2 separate regions of the Homo sapiens genome follow, and region 1 is linked to region 2. The links come from fine-mapping of genetic effects on gene expression. A gene starts in region 2. The other region holds a variant in brackets. All regions are shown on one strand. Distances are between the middles of the regions. Region 1 holds the start of LOC107984872 (a long non-coding RNA gene). Region 2 holds the start of GABRD (gamma-aminobutyric acid type A receptor subunit delta).

What was found.
Region 1: its variant is fine-mapped to the expression of GABRD in whole blood (TOPMed, PIP above 0.99). The same link has a PIP of 0.9 or more in blood mononuclear cells.

The regions. Positions count from the first base shown.
Region 1 is chr1:1,956,029-1,965,955 of GRCh38, forward strand. CFAP74 (cilia and flagella associated protein 74) reads right to left here. Exons shown (of 39, transcript NM_001304360.2): 13 at 8,860-9,033; 14 at 7,721-7,839; 15 at 3,936-4,002; 16 at 3,092-3,181; 17 at 592-756. It overlaps LOC107984872 (a long non-coding RNA gene), which reads left to right and starts at 1,340. Exons shown (of 3, transcript XR_007065354.1): 1 at 1,340-2,125; 2 at 2,336-2,473; 3 at 2,874-3,002. RefSeq lists enhancers at 1,622-2,262, 2,263-2,902, 3,848-4,553. The variant T/C (reference allele first, on the strand shown) is at 4,858.
Region 2 is chr1:2,013,085-2,022,738 of GRCh38, forward strand. GABRD (gamma-aminobutyric acid type A receptor subunit delta) reads left to right here and starts at 6,261. Exons shown (of 9, transcript NM_000815.5): 1 at 6,261-6,407. The coding sequence starts at 6,340. LOC105378589 (a long non-coding RNA gene) reads right to left here and starts at 5,004. Exons shown (of 2, transcript XR_001737844.3): 1 at 2,097-5,004; 2 at 114-1,916. RefSeq lists enhancers at 5,277-5,855, 5,856-6,433.

The DNA of each region.
Region 1 (9,927 bases), 57 kb before region 2:
AGCAGCAGCTCACCCAGAGACTCAGAGTCACCCCTCAGCCTCCCTCACTCCAGGCCGGGTGGGCATGGCTGTGCTGCCCCAGCCTGGGAGTGTGAGCCACATCTTCCTCTTGGTCCAACCCTCCTTCCTCCTTGGCTGGCTAGAGGCTGAGGCTTCTCTCCACCTGAGCCTTGGGACACCCATACCCGTGACAGGACAAGACGCGCTCACACTTGGAACAGGTGCAGCTGTGGCCATGGAGTGCACCTGTCCAGTCCTCCCACCCCCACACCTGGGGCTTCAGAGATGCGTCGGGGGAGGCTGGGTCTCCTGGGGCCCTCGGGCCTGGAGCTGCTGGCCAGCACCCCTGCTGCTACGTGCCTGAGAAAGGGAGTGTCCTGCTGCTGCTGCCCCTGAGGCCAGGTGACTGCAGGTGTCCTACAGAAGAAGCTGGTCTCTTCTGCTTAGGCTGATTTGAGGAGGCCCCCACACTGCCCTCCTTCTCCCAGGCCCACTGTTGATACCCTCATGTTGTCACCTCTGTTCACCCACATGGGACTGGATTTGGGGGGCAGGTCCCCACACTCCCCCATGGCTGAGTGGCACACTCACTAATTTCAGGGCAGACTGGGAGTCGTCCATCTCACAGGGCTCTGAAGCTGGCAGGAACTTGAAAGTCGTGCCCAAGCCCCCAACGTTGGTCAGCGTGATGGTCCGAGACGTGGTCTCTCCTACCACGTAGCTGCCGAAGTCAATGAGCTCCTTGTCGAGGGACAGCTGCCAGAGGACATGGAGTGAACTCAGGGCCACCGTGCCAGGCCCACAGGGTGCCCAGCGTGAGGCCTGCACGTGGCTCCAGGCAGGGCTGCCCTGAGCATTTGTGCGCGTTGTGCACTGCACAAGCAGGTACACGATTCAACCCAGAAATCAGGTGTGTATTGCTCATGACAAGGTGTGGCACGCGAGTCTGGTTTTAAGAACATCAAGGCAGGAGCCCCCTCGCCACGGAGTAACAAGGGTTCAGTGAGAGGACGCAGGGCCCGGATGCAGGGCCTAAACAAGGAGCCTGGACACGGGGCTTTGGAGGTCCTGAGGATGGATGGTGTCATTCCTGGGTGAGGTCAGCTGGACTCTGGATACAGGGACCCAGGGAGCATCCTTCCAGAACGGGAGCACGCCCTCCATGGGGGTGCCTCACCATGCCCGCTGTGGGCCACAGGCCACAGAAGCTCTGGTGCTGGCTAAGGATGCAGGCCCGGGCCATACCTCGGCTCTGCCCAATGGCCCCTCCTCGGGAGGCTTTTCTGGGCTCTGAGTTTGGAGGCCCAGGGGCTCCCCACTCTGTGCTCCTGCTCCAGGGGCAGGACCAGGGGCCACCGACGCAAATGGACGTGGTTCGCAGAGGGCGGTCGGGGTCCAGCCAAGGGAGGCCGCCTCCTTCCCGCCTGCACCGCCTGGGTCCTGTTCTCCCCTTGTTCAGATGGGGTTTTACTGTTTTTACAGTCCCCAGCCTGGACGCTCCCCTGGGAGAAGCAAGCCCCTGCTCAGGGGAGCCGAGGGTCTCGGTGCTCCTGTCACAGAGGAGCACTTGACACTGCAAAGACCAAATGCGGGAGAGGCCGGGGCAGCTCTGGCCAGGACACCTGGGGCCTCGCCGGGCACGTGCTCCATGATGCTGATCCGGAGTGGAGCAGGCCAGTACCAGACTCCTGCCGGGCTCCCAGGCTGAGCAGGAGGGAGCCGGAGCCTGGCTGTCTGCGGGGGGGCGGGGGACTTCCTGCTGCCCCTGGCCCTGGTGCTCGGTGTCCTGGGCCTGAGTCTTGGCTCACCAAGAGCCCGCACAGCCGAGTGCCGGCCCAACCGTGACCGCTCTGAGGAGAAGGCGGCAGCCACAGGGCAAGGAGCTGCTCGGGTGCCCTAGGACGGCAGTGGTCCCTGCATGAACCCAAGCGGGGCCACTTGAGTGCCAAGAGGAAGGGAGACTAAAGTGACTGGAACACACCAAATACTCAAACACTGGTGAGCCTATGAAGAAACTGAGAGGAAAACACTTCTCTCTCTGCCACCATCGGTGACTCTCATCCCAACCCCTCTCCACGGCGACACGCGGTGAAGGAGGAAGCACGCGACAGAGAAAGTTACACAGGTGCTCATCAAAGGTGGCTTGGGGCCAGCGTGGCCTGGATCACGGGTGACCATGAGGGCGTCTGCTGATCTTCCTGGGGTGGGGGACATAGCGCGCCTCTGCCCTTCGCCTGCCCCGGCTTGTTCCTCCTCTAGTGTAAGAATGGGCCTCTTCCTGCCCCGCTGACGCAGGCTCAGGCTGTGAGACTTGCCTTGACCTGAGAATTCTTAGGAGATAATGACGTCCCCACTGTCCTCTGGGAGATGCTCGTGCTGCCGTAGCTGCCACTCTGGAGTCCAGCCTGGACGGGGCTGGCCGCAGAGGGCTTCACACTCGCGGCTGAGCCAGGAGCCGTTTGCTGTGTGGCAGGTGCGGTGCGAGCTGACCAATTACTCGGCGGGGGCCGGGGGGACAATGATGTGTGGGTTCCTGGTTTACTGGAGATGCATGCTGAAGTTTCTGAGGGTGGAGTGTTGACATTTTACTAATGTACTTTGAAATGGATCAGCAACAACAGATATAGCAGTTGATGGACCAAGCAAAGGTGTCCGAGGCCGACAATGTGGAGTCTGGGAGGATGCGGGGTCCGGGTTGCAGCGCGTGGAGCCTTGTTCTGCTGTTCTGTTTTCCTCTATGCTTGAAATTTTTCTTAGTTAAAAAGAATCAGGCGGGATCCCCCCAAGAGCTGCAGATGAATGTTAAGTTTTCCTGAGCCACAGGCCCTGCAGTCTGGGCTCCACACAGAGCAGGGTTTGTCTCATTTTTCCAGCACTGGTCCGAGTGCCCCACGTTCGAGACCCCACCTAAGGTTCGGCTCAGGCCCACCTGAGCTGCTGTTGGAAGAAGGGGCTCAGCCCCTGGTGAAGATTGGAGCTTCCACCTGGTCCCCCCGCCAACCTGCACCCCCTCCCAGGAGATGCCGTCCCCCACTGGGGTTCCCAGCCAGCATGCCCCGAGAAATGCTGGCTCGGACACCTTTGAACTCACCGAACATTTCTTTGTTGAACATTTCAGTGGAACTGAAAACTCGCCCGTCTGAGCCAAAAATGAGATATTTCCTTCTAGATCCTTGTTTATCTAAAACATAAAACAACCCCCACCACAATACACTTCTGCAACTTTTGTGTGTTTTGTTTTTTTTTTGGACAGGGTCTGGCTCTGTTGGCCAGGCTGGGGTGCAGTGGCACCTGCTCGATTCACTGCAACCCCCCTCCACCCACCCCCACCTGGGGTCCAAGCGATCCTCCCACCTCAGCCTCTCCACTAGCTGGGATTACAGGCATGCGCCACCATATCTGGCTAATTGTATTTTTTGTAGAGACGGGGTCTCGCCATGTTGCCCAGGCTGGTCTTGAACTTCTGGGCTCAAGCGACCCTCCTGCCTTGGCCTCCCAAAGTGCTGGGATTACAGGCATAAGCCACCACACCCCTCCCTCCTGTAACTTTAGCCTGTTACATGTGCCGTGGCTACCTGGGCCAGGGCCGCCTGCCACCTGCCCAGCTCGGGTGACCCCAGGGGAAAGAGTCAGTAGAGGGCATCTCAGGAGGGCTGGACACTAGCTTCCTGGAACATCCCAGCCCTCCCGACTTAGACCCGAGAGTGCACGCCCTCGGCCACTAACCCAGAGGAGCTGCGCCGCGGTTCTGCCCAGCATTCAGGAATATGTTGAGTGTATTTTTGGAAGTAAAATAGCAAAACAGGGGCCTGCGTGATCCTCACTGAGAGGCCAAGTGCATCCTTCCCCCATCATGTTCTGCGCCACCATGCCCGATCACAGGCTCCACCCACCACCACCTCCCCTTCGAGAGAGAACGGGCCCCTCTGACTCACCATCGGCTTGAAGGTGACAAGCACTTCACAGGACATTCCGGCTGACAGGGGGCCAGGGGGGTCAAAGCTGCAGGACGTGACCCATAGCACACGGGGGTTAGTGCTGCGGAGGGCAGACGCTCGCCTCACCACCCAGAGCACAGTCAGGCTGGGCCTCCTGGCCTCCTCCCCATCCCGGGCCTGGCCCCCTGCCCAGCCGCCTTCACCCCGGGGAGTGCTGGATCTGCTGCATTCCCTGCTGCCGCCAGTACCTGGCAGGCAGGGGGCGCTCCAGTGTGTGCGAACGTTTGTGGAGTGAGGGAGTTAATCACTGAAGGCGTGAGGCAAGTCCCCAGGCCAACTGCCAGGAAATGGGACCCCATGGGTCGGAGAGGGCCACAGTTCCCCTGGGCACAGGTGCCAGGCCTGGGACCGGGGCTCTAGGGCTTTGATACCAATATGGGACCAGGGGGCTGTGGGCAGGAGCCAGGAAGAGAGCTGGAACTGGGAGTCCTGAGACAGCTGGGACCCTCGGGACCCTCTCAGCCCCTTTCAGGGAAAGAACCACAAAAATAGCCCCTACTGCACAGGCCACTTGAGGGAGCTGGTCTGTCTTGGCCCAGATCAGGGTGAGGGAGCATCTCCCCAAGGAATTCCTGACGCCAGGCTGATTTCACAAGGTTGGATTTTACCTAATGTGCTTGGTTTAGAAATGCACAAGCTAAAATTTTAATGTAAAATGTGTCCCTGGCTGGCAACATTCCCACGGCACCAGCAGAAGCAAACCCAAAGCTCCTCCAATTGGGAGGGAAATGCTTTGGTGCCGACTGCACAGAGCCCGGGATGGAGCTGCCGGGGAGAGGAGCAGAATCCGAGAGGGTGGACGTGCGTGCCTCACATAAACCAGCAGCAGAGTGCAGGGCCGAGCTCCAAACCCTTCAGA[T/C]GACAGAAGCGTGGAGTGGGGATGTTAGAGGACGTATAGATAAAATGGTTAGAGACAGAAATAGAGAATTCCAGACGTGAGAAAAGAACAAGACACTGTCAAGAAATGCAGACTCATCCAAAACAGAACTTGGCATTTTTAGAAATGAGAGACAGGGCAGCTGAGTAAGAAACTTACTGAGCAATTTCAACCGTTGATTAGCAGCACTAAGGGGACAAGTGGTGAACCGAGCAGCACCTAGAGCACCACCCAATGCGAAAAAGAGACAAGAAATTTCCAACCCGACGGGGAGGTTTCAAAAGGAGGAGCAGGAGGGCAGAGCCGGAGAATGAATGGGGGAGGGGCGATGCCTGGGGAGCTGGGGCTGAGAAGTTCCCAAAATTGTTCAAAGATCTGAATCTTCAGATTCAACAGCACAGTGAGGTCTAAGAAAAATCAGCCCACACCAGACGCACAGCAGAGCTGCGGGACATTAAGGATGAGAGAATCTCAGAGCAAGCAGGCGGAAAGCCAGGTATCCTCCAAAAAAACCAGCACCTGGACCGAGGCCACCTCCCACTCCAGCAACAAGAGGCAGAGGGCAGGAGAGTGGTGGCCTCAACCTGTTGAGAGAAAATAACCGTCCATGAGAAGTTCTCATCCCAGCGTGGGGAGGAATGCCTCGGTGGCTGAGAGCACAGCGACCACCTAAACCCACCTCTGCACGCGCCCTCCAGAAACCACATGGATCAATGAGAGAAACAGGCGGGCTGCAGAAATCCCATGCCTTCAGCATGACTAGAGGACACAGAACCCTCCAGACTTAAAATTAACCATAAGGTGAAAAGTAAACACCAACCTCCAGCATGCATTCTCCATGCCCGCCTTCACAGAGAGCTACGAAGGTCTGAAAAACTGCAGGGAAGAGAGGAAGGAGACGGGAACAAAGACCCTAAGACTGACCTAAAATCAGCTCCCCAAAGAGAACATCACAGCCTCCACAAGAAAATACCAAGTCCCAGTGAGTCAGTGCTGATCTCAGGGAGGGGCCATCAGAGCCCACGCGCCCCTGGGGGCAGCCTCAGGAAGATGCCTCGTGGGAGAAGAGGAGGCCCCTCTGGAGCCTGGGCAGCAAGGGGGGAATGAGGATCCTGCCCTTGCTGACCCTCTTTTGAGAAGCTGCACTTCACAACGCTCGCGGGAGTGGAAACTCCTGAACTGGGAATCCGAAAGCCATCCTGGACCTACAAACCTGTCCACAAAGAGAAAACTGGCAGGAAGCAGGAAGTAGAAGAGAAAGAACTTTCTTAAAAATAAAGTAAGTTAGGCTGGGTGCTGTGGCTCACGCCTGTAATCCTAGCATTTTGGGAGGCCGAGGTGGGCCTCGGATCACCTGAGGTCAGGAGTTCATGACCAGCCTGGCCAACATGGTGAAACCCCGTCTCTACTAAAATACAAAAAATTAACCGGACGTGGTGGCAGGCGCCTGTTATCCGAGCTACTCAGGAGGCTGAGGCAGAAGAATCGCTTGAACCCAGGAGGCAGAGGTTGCAGGGAGCCGAGATTGTGCCACTATACTCCAGCCTGGGCAACAAGAGTGAAACTCCATCTCAAAAAAAAAAAAAAAAAAGTAAGTTACTAAGGAGCAGAAGAAAAGAGAAACATTGCAGAAAACATGGAAAAGGCCGTCAGAGGGAAAAATGAAGAAAAATAAAATAAAAGAGAAAAGAAGAAAATGGGCCAGGCACAGGGGCTCACACCTGTAATCCCAGCACTTGGGGAGGCTGAGGCAGGTGGATCACTTGAGCTCAGGAGTTTGAGACCAGCCTGGGAAACACAGTGAAACCCTGTCTCTACAAAAAATAGAAAAATTAGCCGGGCTTGGTGGCACACAGCTGTGGTCCCAGTTACTCAGGAGGCTGATTGAGGCAGGAGGATTGCTGGAGCCTGGGAAATTGAGGCTGCAGTGAACTGAGATCGTGCCACTGCACTCCAGTCTGGGTGACAGAGCAAGACCCTGTCAAAAACAAAACAAAGAAAAGGAAAGCAGAAAGCATTAAAGGCAACCAGAAGGAAAACATCAGACACCAAAGACCAGCAAGGAGGATCCAAAACACAGGTAAGTGGAGTCTGCAAGGAAGCAAATGGAAACATTGTTACAGAGTGAAAGCACGGCCTTAATTCAGGGAGGCAGTGCTGAAATGAAGACAGCTTTCACCTTGACACTGAAAACACTGGCTAATTGCCAGGGAAAACTTATCAGAATGGTCAACATCAAAACATAACAATACAAAAGGAAACTCTGACAAGGTGTGGTGGCTCATGCCTGTAATACCAGTACTTTGGGAAGCCAAGGCAGGTGGACCGCCTGAGGTCAGGAGTTCGAGACCAGCCTGGGCAACATGGTAAAACCCGGTCTCTACTAAAAATATAAAAATTAGCCAGGCGTAGTGGCAGGTGCCTGTAATCCCAGCTACTGGGGAGGCTGAGGCAGGAGAATCTCTTGAATCCAGGAGGTAGAGGTTGCAGTGAGCTGAGACCGCGCCATCGCACTTGCACTCCAGCCTGGGCGACAGAGCAAGACTCCATCTCAAAAAAAAAAAAAAAAAAAAAAAAAAAGGCAGCAAAACAAAACGAAGAAAAACAAAAGGAAACTTGGGCAGCCAGGCAAAGTTCCAGCCATTCGTGAAGGGAAATGGGCTCGGTCTCGGACGACTTTGACACAAGAAGACAGAGGAGCCCCCTCTACAAAATCTTCGTGAAAATCGGACCTGAGGGCTTATGCCCATATAGAGCCTGTTCCAGCCGTTCTGAACATGAAGGGACCTATGAACCTCCTGCTGTCCCTGCACCGCGTCCCTCCCTGTCTGAGCCGTCCTCTTACTCAACGTGGATGAAGTCCCGGAGGTGCTCCTCCACGCCCACCAGCTTGCAGTAGTTGATCGTGTAGGTGGTGTTTACCAACGTGATCTTTTTCTTGTACACTTTGCCAATATCAAAGTCCTGGGAAAGGCCGAGGTAGCAGCTTCAGAGCGGGTCACAGGGGGCTGTGCTGTGAGCACCGAGGCAGCTTTGCCTCAAGGTAACCGCTGGTGAGCATTTGCCAACTAGGGAGAGGTTCCCAGGGAACAATTTCCAAGGTTTCTCCCAGAATCGAGAAGGCCCCTGGGGTGCATGAAGGACAGGTCTGGGGGTGGAACCTGTCACATAAGAGCCTTCGCCACTTGAGGCAGGACAGGGCCTTGCTGGGGCCCGCAGGTGGGAGTAAGAGAAAAGGCTCAGACACTGTGGGTTCCAAGGTGGGTCCCTGACTCCATGGATGGACTTGAGCTGGGGTCAAATACAGGAGCCCACAGCCTGCTCTGTCTTGCAGAGTTTGGCAGAGGCGTCCAGGCACCAACCTCAGCCTCACATGTTCCCACCCTGTCCCTGCTACATCCCTGTCCCGAGGTTCAGGGGACCCCCACTGCCCCAAGTGGCACAGGGCTTTCGGGGCCACGGCACCCCCATTGCTCAGACTGGCGTCCAGCCCTCCATGGGGATGGGGCCCTCTCCCTCCACCTCCTGGAAGAGAAGGTCCACACTTGGGCCTGTGCCTCCTGAGGAAGCCCCCGGGTTTTCCAGCGTTAAAAAGCGAAAGGCAGGCCAGGCGCAGTGGCTCATGCCTGCAATCCCAGCACTTTGGGAGGCTGAGGCGGGCAGATCGCCTGAGGTCAGGAGTTCGAGACCAGCCTGGCCTACATGGTGAAACCCCGTCTCTACTAAAAATACAAAAATTAGCCAGGCGTGGTGGCAGGCGCCTGTAATCCCTGCTACTCGGGAGGCTGAGGCAGGAGAATCGCTTGAACCCAGGAGGCGGAGGTTGCAGTGACCTGAGATTATGCCGTTGCACTCCAGCCTGGGCGACAGAGTGAGACTCCATCTCAAAAAAAAGCAAAAGGTGTCAGGGGTTGGGCTGCGGCAGGGCTCCCCTGCTGTCCTGTGCTGCTGCCCGTCCCGTTCCTGGCCCAGCTGCGGGCTCACCTGGAAGTGGAGGAGCTCCGGTTTGCTGTTGAAGGGGCGTCCTTGGAACTCACGCCCCCACACCACCTGCTTGTGGACCACCCTGCTCCGCAGCCGCTCCACCGTGCGCTCCAGGATGTCCTTGTCCATCTTTGTCCCGCCCACGGGCTTTCGGTCCACGTCCTCCTTGGGCACCTGGGGGTCACAGAGACAGAGGCTGGGGCTGTTAGCGGCTCCACCTGGGCGGCGCCGGTGGCAGCTCGGAGGCGAGGGTAGCGGTTAGCAGAGCACGGACAGCCCAGCCCCACCGGCTGCCACCAGCGCTGGAGCTGGGAAGAGCCCCATGGCCCGGGGAGTTGCTCTGAGTTGCTCAGAAAGGCCCTGGGGACCGACTGACTTTCTGCTCCATTGACAAGGCAGGGACCCCTCACTTCCAAAAAAGAGGAAACCAGGAAACAAGAGCAGACAGCTCCAGATTCAGGTGGATTTCTGGGAAATGATGTGGAGGGGGAACTTTCCAGATTGTTAAATCAGGACAAGAGGAAGGTTTTGAAAGGTTCTGCAGGAAGCAGTTTTCTCGAGCGGGCAGTGTCAGCACACACTGGGCTTTCTCAGATGAAAAGCCGCTTCCCTGGCCAACACCAGCAACCAGGAAGATCAGAACTGGAGTCCTGAACTGTCCCTTCAGAAGCTGCTTGGACTCTGCGTGGGTCCTGGCTCTGGGCTGTGGGCTGTCCCTGCTGGTGCCCATGCCCGGCAGCCGGGCAGCCTCCTCCCTGGCTTCCCGGGGTGGGGGGGGCACTTGGCACCCTCCTCTTGTCCAGAGGCAGCCTTCTCCCTTGGGTGTCCCCAGTGGGCAGGTGGTGGCTCTGCCTGGCCTGTCTTGTTCACCACCCTGGTCAGCCCGGCATCCCCAGAACCAGCAGAACCAGGTGGCTTTTGCCCTGACAGTAGAGGTGGCCAATGCTTACAGAAACCGGGCGGCGGGCATTGCCCTCCCACGTGGGACAGGGCCACAGCCTGAGCCACACTGCTGCAGAGACCGTGTCTTGCTGTAACTGCTCTTTCAGAGGCAGAAGGACCCCAGCG
Region 2 (9,654 bases):
AAAGAAAGAAAGAAAAGAAAGCAGATTGGCAGCTTCTTACCAACTTAAACATACAGTCCCCTTGAAACCCAGTAATCCCACACATATTTATTCAAAAGAAACGAAAACATGTGTCCATACACAGACTTGTATTTAAATGTTAAAAGCAGCTTTACTCATAATAGCCCAGAACTGCATATGTCCCAGAGCTCATCAACAGGTAGACAGTTAAACAAACCGAGGTGTGAGCATGCAATGGAATGAAATATTACTCGCAATAAAAAATCCACCGTTGACATGCACAACGGCATGGGTGGCCCTACAGAGTGTTGAGCTGAGAGAAGGCAGACACGAACGACGGCTCTGCTAGAAATCCACTACCACACGAGTCACTGCGACACACAGCAGCTTAAAACAGTGTTTATCATCTCAGCTTTTGTAGGTCTGGGTCCCGGCTCAGTCTCCCTTACAAAGCTGCAGTCCGACGTCAGCCAGGGTCACGGTCACCTCCAGGCTCAGCTGTGGCAGCATCCCAGGGTGGCTGTTGGAGTGAGTTCCCTGCTGTCTTGGGGGTGGTGGAGGGGTCTGGCTCTCATGGCTGCCTTCAGTTCCTGGCCCATGAACCTCCCCACCTCAGCAGCAACCCAGCACTGGCTTCATCAAAGTGAGTAGGGGCGACAGTGCCCTGAGACCTGAATCACGGCATTTTATAAATGAATCTCAGGATGCCTCATCACTCTTTTTATTTAACTTTTATTTTTTTTCAAGATGGTGTCTAGCTCTGTCACCCAGCCTGGAGTGCAGTGGCACGATCTCAGCTCACTGCAATCTCTGCCTCCCAGTTCTCCTGCCTCGGCCTCCTGAAGAGCTGGGATTACAGGCGTGTGCCACTGTGCCCGGTTGATTTTTGCATTTTAGTAGAGATGGGGTTTTACCATGTGGGCCAGCTGGTCTCGAACTCCTGACCTCAAGTGATCCGCCCACCTTGGCCTCCCAACGTGCTGGGATTACAGGTATGAGCCACTGCACCCTGCCTTTTTATTATTTGTTTTAGAAACTGGGTCTCAGTCTGTTGCCCAGGTTGGAGTGCAGTGGTGCGATCACGGCTCACTGCAGTCTCCACCTCCTGGGTTCAAGCGATCCTCCCACCTCAGCCTCTGGAATACCTGGCTAACTTTTTTTCTGTAGAGACAGGGTCTCCCTATGCTACCCAGGCTGGTGTCAAACTCCTGGGCTCAGGAGATCCTCCCGCCTCAGCCTCCCACAGTGCTGGGATCACAGGTGTGGCCATCGTGCCCGGCCCATCACTCTTTATGGATGAGAACAACACACTGCTTGGTCCAGACGACATGTGAGGAGGAAGGCCACGCCACACCAGGGGTAGGGATCGTGGGGAGCCCTGGGAGAAGGCTGCCAACCCACCTTCCTGCTGGACGGTCCCGTTAATGAGCTGCCGCGAGTTCCATTCGCGGCCAGATCTTGTCTCCCCAGCAGCCCACTTTAGGCGTCTTCGTGCCGTTGCCTCAGTCGTGCTTGTATCTAAAAGTAGGACGTGTTTGTCACTTGATCGACAGCCCTTTTGTTAGAAACGTTACTTTGTGTTTAAGGTTTTCTATCGCACGAAATAATTCAAATTGCCACTTTAAAAAACATAGAACACGAGAATAGAATACCGACTTCTCCACATTAAAAACGAGTAATGGTTCTTGGATATCTATTTAACTCAAGTATAGAAAAAATGTTCTAAGCGGCCAAGCTGGGTTGTTCATTGGTTCTCAGGGCCTGGATGGCTAAAGACAGCTACTCAGCTAAGCGTGGTTTCCGACTGAACTGCATCCTTTGTTTCAGTAGACGGCCGGTCTCAGGCTGCTACACGTATTTTGCATTTGGTCGTTTCTGCCAAATTTCCTCTGCTTATCCACATGAACGGAGTCCGTCTGAAAATCACAGGATTAATAATTACCACCTAACTCGATAACGTTCTTCTCTGTGTCCCTGCCATTTTCTCTGTTTGGTGCATTTCCCCAGGAAAGTAACAGAACAACCTCACAAATACATCAGGAAGGAGGTTTAAATTTAGCGAGCGCCGTTTCCTCTCCCAGGTCCCGGTGACTCACCTCCACCTCCCAGGGCTGTCCTGCTGCTGCGGAGCTGCAGCAATGGACGGGGGCCAGCTCCCTGCCCACGCCTCGGACTCTAGGCCGTCCCTTCCCCTGCGCTGTGGGCATCTGAGCATCCGGCAAGGTGTCAGTCCAAAAGAAACAATGTAAGTGGGCTGCAGGCTGGCATCTGAATACCCACCTCAACCCGCAGACCACACTTCCGTGGCTTTCTGTGTGCTCCATAGGACATTGGTGTCCAGGGAAGAACCGAGTCAGTGACTCCCAGGGCTAACTAACGGGTAGGATGTTCATTCCTTCCAGAGCCAAAGGTGCACGTTCTGCTCCGTGCCATATGGGGAAAGTGTAACGCCTCCCAGCACTGAGCAGAAGGAAGAGGCAGCAGCTATTGCCCTGAGCACCCACCCAAAGGGCTCTGGATGGATCCTCCCCGATGGAGAAGCAGTTCCACGTGTCCAGGAAGCAGGAAGAGCGCTGTGAAGGAATACTGGGTGTGTAGGGATCAAGGGCTCTGGGTGTGAAGTCTGAGCTGCTTTCTCGTGACTGTTCCCACAATCTGGTGCTGGAGCCCCCTCGGTGTGCACTCTCAGTGGTGCCAAGACAAGGAGGTGGGTTTTGTTCAGGAGCCTGGGTAAGGAGCACACACCCCATCTCAAACGGGGAGACTTCCATTGATGGAGATCGGCCTTGTTACTGATTGTGAAAACCTCACCAGAGCCTCGTTCGGAGGGTGGGTTCTCCCACAGGACAGGAGATGGGGCATAACCTCCAGTATTCCCCAGAGAGCGGGCAGCCCAGGTCTCTGCAAAGTGGGTAGTCACTGTCAAACAAAACAACCTGAGACGCTTTCTAACAGAGTTCAGCACTTCTGACACTAAGAAAACCAATCACGACTCTCACCCTGTCATTTTGTAAAAGAAGAAAACAAAACTGGGAAATAACTTCGCTGAGGTCACACGGCCAGTTTGGAGCAGAGCTGGGACTGGCACCCAGACCTCTGACTCCTGGAGCTCTTCCCAGATTCTTGAAAGGGGCCAAGAAGTGAGCTGCTTCCATCTCATGGGCACAGAAACTCCCTGTCCTGGGGCTCACATCCACCAGGTGCCAGCCACACAGGCCCCAGTCACACAGGCCCCGGCTCCTGACCCCTGGGCCAGGCTGCTCCCCGGCTGGCCTTCCTGGTGCTGGCGTGGTCGGAGCTTCCCTGGGTGGAGGATGAGGCTAAGGAAGCCGACTGGTTATGCACATCACAATGGGATGGAAGTTCGGAAATGGCAACAAACTAATTCTCAAAAACCTTGAAAAAGAAATTATGAAAATTCCCGTTCTTCAGATCCAAACTGAAACATCAGTTAGGAGGCCGGGTGTGGTGGCTCACGCCTGTAATCCCAGCACTTTGGGAGGCCGATGTGGGCCGATCACTTGAGGTCAGGAGTTCGAGACCAGCCTGGCCAACATGGTGAAACCCTGTCTCTACTAAAAATACAAAAATTAGCTGGGCATGGTCGCAGGCGCCTGTAATCCCAGCCACTTGGGAGGCTGAGGCAGGAGAATTGCTTGAACCCAGGAGGTGGAGGTTGCAATGAGCTGAGATAGTGCCACTGCCCTCCGGCCTAGGCAACAAGAGCGAAACTCCATCTCAAAAACAAAAAAGAAAGAAAGAAAGAAAAAGAAAGAAAGAAAGAAAGACCAGTTAGGAACAATAAAGAATGGAAATGAAGTGTGCAGACTTCAAACCTTGCAGAAACCTGTGAATGATGGATGGGACATGCATTTGCCTCTAGGACTGAAGGAAGAGGAGACAATTTGATGCCACCAAACCACCAGATATTTGGCTAAGATGCCCGCCCAGCTTCAACTGACATACACACAACAGCACGACTTTCCAGCAAAAGTTCAACATTGGCTGGGCACGGAGGCTCATGCCTGCAATCTCAGCACTTTGGGAGGCCACGGGGGAGGATCCCTTGAGGCCAGGAGTTTGAGACCAGCCTGGGAAACATAGTGAGACCCCATCTCTACAAAAAATAGAAAATTATCTGGGTGCAGTGACATGCCTCTGTGGTCCCAGCTCCTCCAGAAGCTGAGGTGCAAGGATCCCTTGAACCCGGGAGGTGGAGGCTACAGTGAGCTGAGATCGTGCCACTGCACTCCAGCCTGGGCCACAGAGCAAGACCTTGTCTCTTAAAAGAAAAAGAAGAAAATTGAATGTTAATTTTATGCCCCAGATAATAGAGGAGCGTGAAGAAAATGGCAATAGGGTGTGGCTTATCCTGAATGAATCGGATCCAGTGAGTCAAGATCAACGCTGCTTCTCAGAGGTGATCAGCACCAAGATATCCTCAGATAAGCTCTTCGCAGATATTGAAGGGATTGCGACCATGAACCACTCTCACTGCTTAGTTCCAAAGCTCAGGAAGGAAAGACAGGGAGGGCGGGGCACTGTCCGGAGGCAGTGATGGCGTGCTGGCCGCAGTGGGTGCATGGACTTTGCAGATGTGGAGTCTGCACCTCCTCCTACATTTGCTGAGCACCTACTTCATCCAATACACCACCAAGGAGAAGACGGACAAGACCCCTGTTCTGGAGGGGGAAGAATAAAAATAATGCCTCTCACCGGGGGCCGGGCCAAGCTCTGGGCACCTCTTCATGAATTAACTCCTAAATTAATCCATGGAAGGGACACGTGGGAAGGGGCACGTGTGCAGAGCACAGGCTCGGACAGGAACCCCGGGAACACAGGGAGGTCAGTGCTTCTGTACCCAAAGGACCCCTCTCGGCAGGGGCCAGTGAGCAGCCGGGAAGGGGGCCTTGGAGTTGAGACCTGTTGGGCTTGTTAGAGCCCCGTTCCTTGATTTAAGAAAGCAGGCTAGGGCTGGGTGCAGTGGCTCACGCCTGTAATCCCAGCACTTTGGGAGGCCGAGGCGGGCGGATCACGGGGTCAGGAGTTCGAGACCAGCCTGGCCAACATGGTGAAATTCCGTCTGTACTAAAGATACAAAAAAATAACCGAGCGTGGTGGCAGGTGCCTGTAATCCCACCTACTCGGGAAGCTGTGGCAGGAGACTTGCTTGAACCTGGGAGGCAGAAGTTGCAGTGAGCCGAGATTGTGCTCCAGCCTGGGTAACAGAGCCAGATTCCATCTCGAAAAATAACATAACATAACATAACATAACATAACATAACATAACATAACATAACATAACATAAATAAAGCAAGCAAACTGGAACCAGCCTCATTCTTCCACTTCCCACAGTAGGGATTGGGCTGGAAATTCCGAAGCAAATCCCTCTCTGCACTTTCCTCCACCTGCCCCTGTGCGGCCAGGGCCCTTCATCCAGAAGCACGCAGCCTCGGGGACAGCTTCGCCATTTTTAAGTGTTTTCACGAGGGGTTGACACTGTGCTGTCAGCGACATCGCGAGCCCAGAAGTGAATAACTGACACAACAATGATTAAAGTTTGTGAGCAGCTTCAGGAAATGGCAGCGCAACTTTATGTTCAAAAGATCCAAGGCAGGAGAGTGTGAGGCCTTCCCTTTCCCAGATCCTAGGGGTGTGGAGGGCGGGCCTGGGGCCATGAGAGGTGTGGAGAGTCAGAACTGCGGCCTGCGGCGCAGCCCCCACCTGCTTTTCCTCTCCCCGCCCCCGTCGAGGGTCCCCAGGGATCAGGACTTGCTCCCAAAGTCGCCTGGCCCCAGCTCCCGCGAAGGCAGGAGGGTTTTGGAAGCAGCCGCTGGTGGGGGTCTCTCTCCTGACAGCTGCAGGGACTGGCCCCCTCCCCACCCACCGCCGGCGCAGCCAGAAGCAGCCACGCAGACGTGCGACCCCCCACAAACCGCCTCGGGACGAGGTTCTGCCGCGCCCGTGGGCCACAGTGTCCACGCGGGGCTTGTGCCGGTGTCGCCTCCCATGAAGACACCCGGAGGGTCCCGTCTGCGGCGCGTGAGGGCAGCGGTCCCGGAGAGCCAGACCCCGGCCAGGGAGAGCTGCCCGCGAGGGAGGGGGCGCGGCTGGCGGAGGGGGGCGGGATGGGGCGGGGGGCGGGGGGAGGAGAGGGGAGCGGCGGGCGGGGCCGGGCTGCAGGGAGCGGCGGGCTGGGGCGGGCTCGGGGCGGGCTCCGCGCTCCGTCCGCCCCCTCGCGCCCGCGCCGCGCTCGCTCAGCTCCCGCCCGCCTGTGCCGCCTGTGCGGCCGCCGGGAGCCAAGTTTGCGCGGACCCCGTCCCGAGCCCGCCGCGGCCATGGACGCGCCCGCCCGGCTGCTGGCCCCGCTCCTGCTCCTCTGCGCGCAGCAGCTCCGCGGCACCAGGTGAGCGGGCGGGGTCCGCGCGGCGCGGGGTCGGGGGCGGTGGGGGGCCCGCGTCGGCCCGAGATAGCGGCTGGGAGAGCGGCCGGCGCGAGCCCCGGGCCCCGGACCCCAAGTCTGAGAGCCCCGCGTCCTCCCTCCCCGGGGTCTTGCCCCGCGGGCCCCTCGTTGGACTCGCCCGGACGCTGCCCTTGGGCTCGGGACGCGGCGACCCCCGCGCTGGCCGCCCCCGCCCGGTGCTGTCCGCCGTCCTGGTGCTGAACCTGGGCTGGGCGAGGGCGTCGGAGCCTCCCGGTTCCCCTGCTCCGCGGCGCGCGTGGAGGGTCCCCGGGTCCGCGGCACTCGCGGGTCCCTGCCCGGCGGGTGCCTTGAGGAGAGGAAAGACCTGAGAACTCGGTGCGGGGAGGCTGCTCCCTTTGCGGGGGAGCCGTTCCCCGTTCCCCCAGTGAGCTTCCCCAGCCGGAGGGTCTGGGACGGACGGAGGAGGCTGTCTCGCTGTGGAGGGTGGGCCCGGCCTCCGGGGTCTCCTTTCAGAGTCCGTTTCAAATGGCGTGGGCAGAACTCCTGAGTGTGTGCAGGTGGACGGCGGCCAGGTGCCCCTGGCCACAGAAAAGAGATGGTGGATTTCTTAACTATTTTGGGAGGGACTCCCCAGAGAAGGAAGAGGCTGAGAAGGAGGCCCCCCGGGGCTGGAGCCCCCTCTGGCCTACAGTGCCCCCCCATCTCCTCTCTGGGGATCTGAAATGGGCTCCTCAGCCACCCAGGCAACTTGGCCCCACCACGGGGCCTGGCTGGCCGCCTTCCCTAGGAGTCACGAGAGGACATTTAGGGGCGTCTTTGAAAATCACCTCAGTGCAAAGACTGCAGAAGAAACAGCAAAGAGCCATCCCCCAGCATTCAGGATCTCAGAGACCGTGAAGATGTAGATATAGAGGTGGCTGACCGTAGTAGAGATGGCAGCACCCAACACGGGGCGGTGTGTCAGAGTTTTCCCATTGGAGGTGCGGGGGACAGAGCCCAGAAGGCCTGGGTCCAGCTGCAGCCGTGTGCCCATCAGGAGACCGCGGGGTCGGCACTGCCCCTGGCTCTAAGCAGCCCGTGTCCTGGGAAGAGCTTTGTTCTTCCATCAATCCCAGTGGGCCTTTCTCCCTTTGTCCTTCCCCTCCTTCAAGGTGAGAGGAAGGACGAAGCTCGGGGCACAGTTGTGGATGCTGTGCTGGAGCCATGGGGACAGCTGCCAGCCCAGGCCCACGGCCACTTAGCCAAGAGGCTGAAATCCAGACGGCTCTGAAACCCCAAAGTTTTAGCCCAAGTTCGACACCAGAATTCAGTTGGCAGCAAGTCCCGTCCCGCATGGACGTGAGACTCTTCTCATCTTTATTAATCCTACTTCTGGGATTATTTATATACACTTCCTGCTGGGAAATTCTTCAGGCCGCCCCCAGCCACAGCCTCTGTGTCCACCATTTCCCTGCTCTAAAATCTGAAGATCCTTAATCCTGGCCTGCATCTGGCTCCTGGGCTGACGGGGAAGGGATTCTGTGCCTGTTTCCTTGGGCAGGAAAGCTGGAAGGCCACGGCCCAGCCAGGAGTGGGGGGCCTCTGGGCCTGCAGTCACTCCCATCCCTGGAAGAGGGGTGCCGTTGGGGAGGACACCTTGCCTGGTGAGAGGTGCACTGCTTTGCTCAGCTCCCCTTTCGCTCTCTAGTTAAAAACAGTTACCACCTGGCTGCATGCTGCAGCCTCTCCTTTGAGGTCATCCTGTCCACACACATGTGCTGGGCTCAACCTCCTGCTCTTGGCGTCTAGGGGCAGGCCTGGAGGGTCTCCCCAGGGTGGAAGCACCTGCCAACTCAGCCCTAGGGGCCACCTTCAGACTTAGCGGGGTGCTGTCCATGAAGGGCCTCTCTGTATCTGTGCCCCTACACTCCAGAAACCAGGACAGCCGCCCTCCCTTCCCTCAGTCTCGGGGTCCTTGTCCTGGAGCTGTATTGGACGTCAGTGGGACCCATTCTGGCCATTACCCCAGGTCCCCATTGCAGCAGCTCCTCATGGGAAAGGCTGGGTGGGATAGGAAGGGAGTGTGCTGCGTGGCGGCCGTGGGTCGGCCCGGAGTGTGAAGACCCGTGCACGCGGCAGGCACCGAGCTTGCCGACTGCATGCCCGCGTGGGTGGCCCTCCCGGGCTGCCGGCACCTCCGTCTCCCTGGAGAAGCTGTGCTGCGGCTCCTACCGTGCCAGCTCGCGGTGCGCTGGTGGCGGTGCTCCTCTTCGCCTTGGTAACTGCAATGCTGGGAGGCTTGAGCTGCTCTAAAAGCAGGGCTGTGGGATATGTGGGCTGGGTGTGCGCCGTGGAGAAGCCTGCAGGGGGAGGATCCCAGCTACATCTACCTTCCCTGTCTGTCCCCAGGGCGCAGACAAGTGACAGGGATGGGTTTGTTTTTCAGTGGGGCCAGGAGGGCAGGAGGCCAGGTGACCCATGGAGAGCCACCCGAGGGGGAAGCTGCCATGTCTTCATGGTGCCCACTCTGCCCCCTGAGTTTGGAGTCCTAAATCTGAGTGTAGACTTGGAGCCTGGTGTGTAGCCCTGAGCCTCTCTGTCCATCCACCCACAGGAAACCCCAAGCTCAGGCCACCACTGGGCCCCAGGGCCACCAGGTGAGGCAGCAGCCCTCTCCCGAGGTCTCCGTGACATACCAGAGTCAGGACAGCCCCACCCTGTGCCTATCTCCGCTGGTGCAGGCTGTGTTCCCCCAGCCCCCGCTAGATCTGCCTCCCTTGTACATCCTGACCTGAGGAAGTGAGGGGCCCTCCAGACCCCAGAGTCTGGCATGAAGCGCACGCCCCCGCACTCTGGCCCTTCCCATCTGTTCACGGTGGGAAAACGACCGGGGGCTCTCCTAGGTGAGAAATGGCGTGGGGGTGGGAGCCTGCTTCCTTCTCGCCCCCAGGAGATGGCAAAGGTGCCTCCAGGTGAGCTTCGTGGCGGGGGCTGCTCCTGGCCTTGCCTTCGTGCCCCCCCACATGTGCCACCACCCTGAGATGGGCAAGAGATGTGGCCCAGGAAGGACGGTGTCTCCTGTGGCCTCATTCCAGGCAGGCTAGATGGCAGCTGGGCTGGTCCAAAAATAAAGCCTCACTAGAGCCCTTTGCGTCCGACCTTCAAGGCAACTGCCATTTGCATTTTTAATTGGCCGGGACTTAATTTGATTCCATCTTATACTTTGTTACCAAAGTGCCTGCTCCTCCTT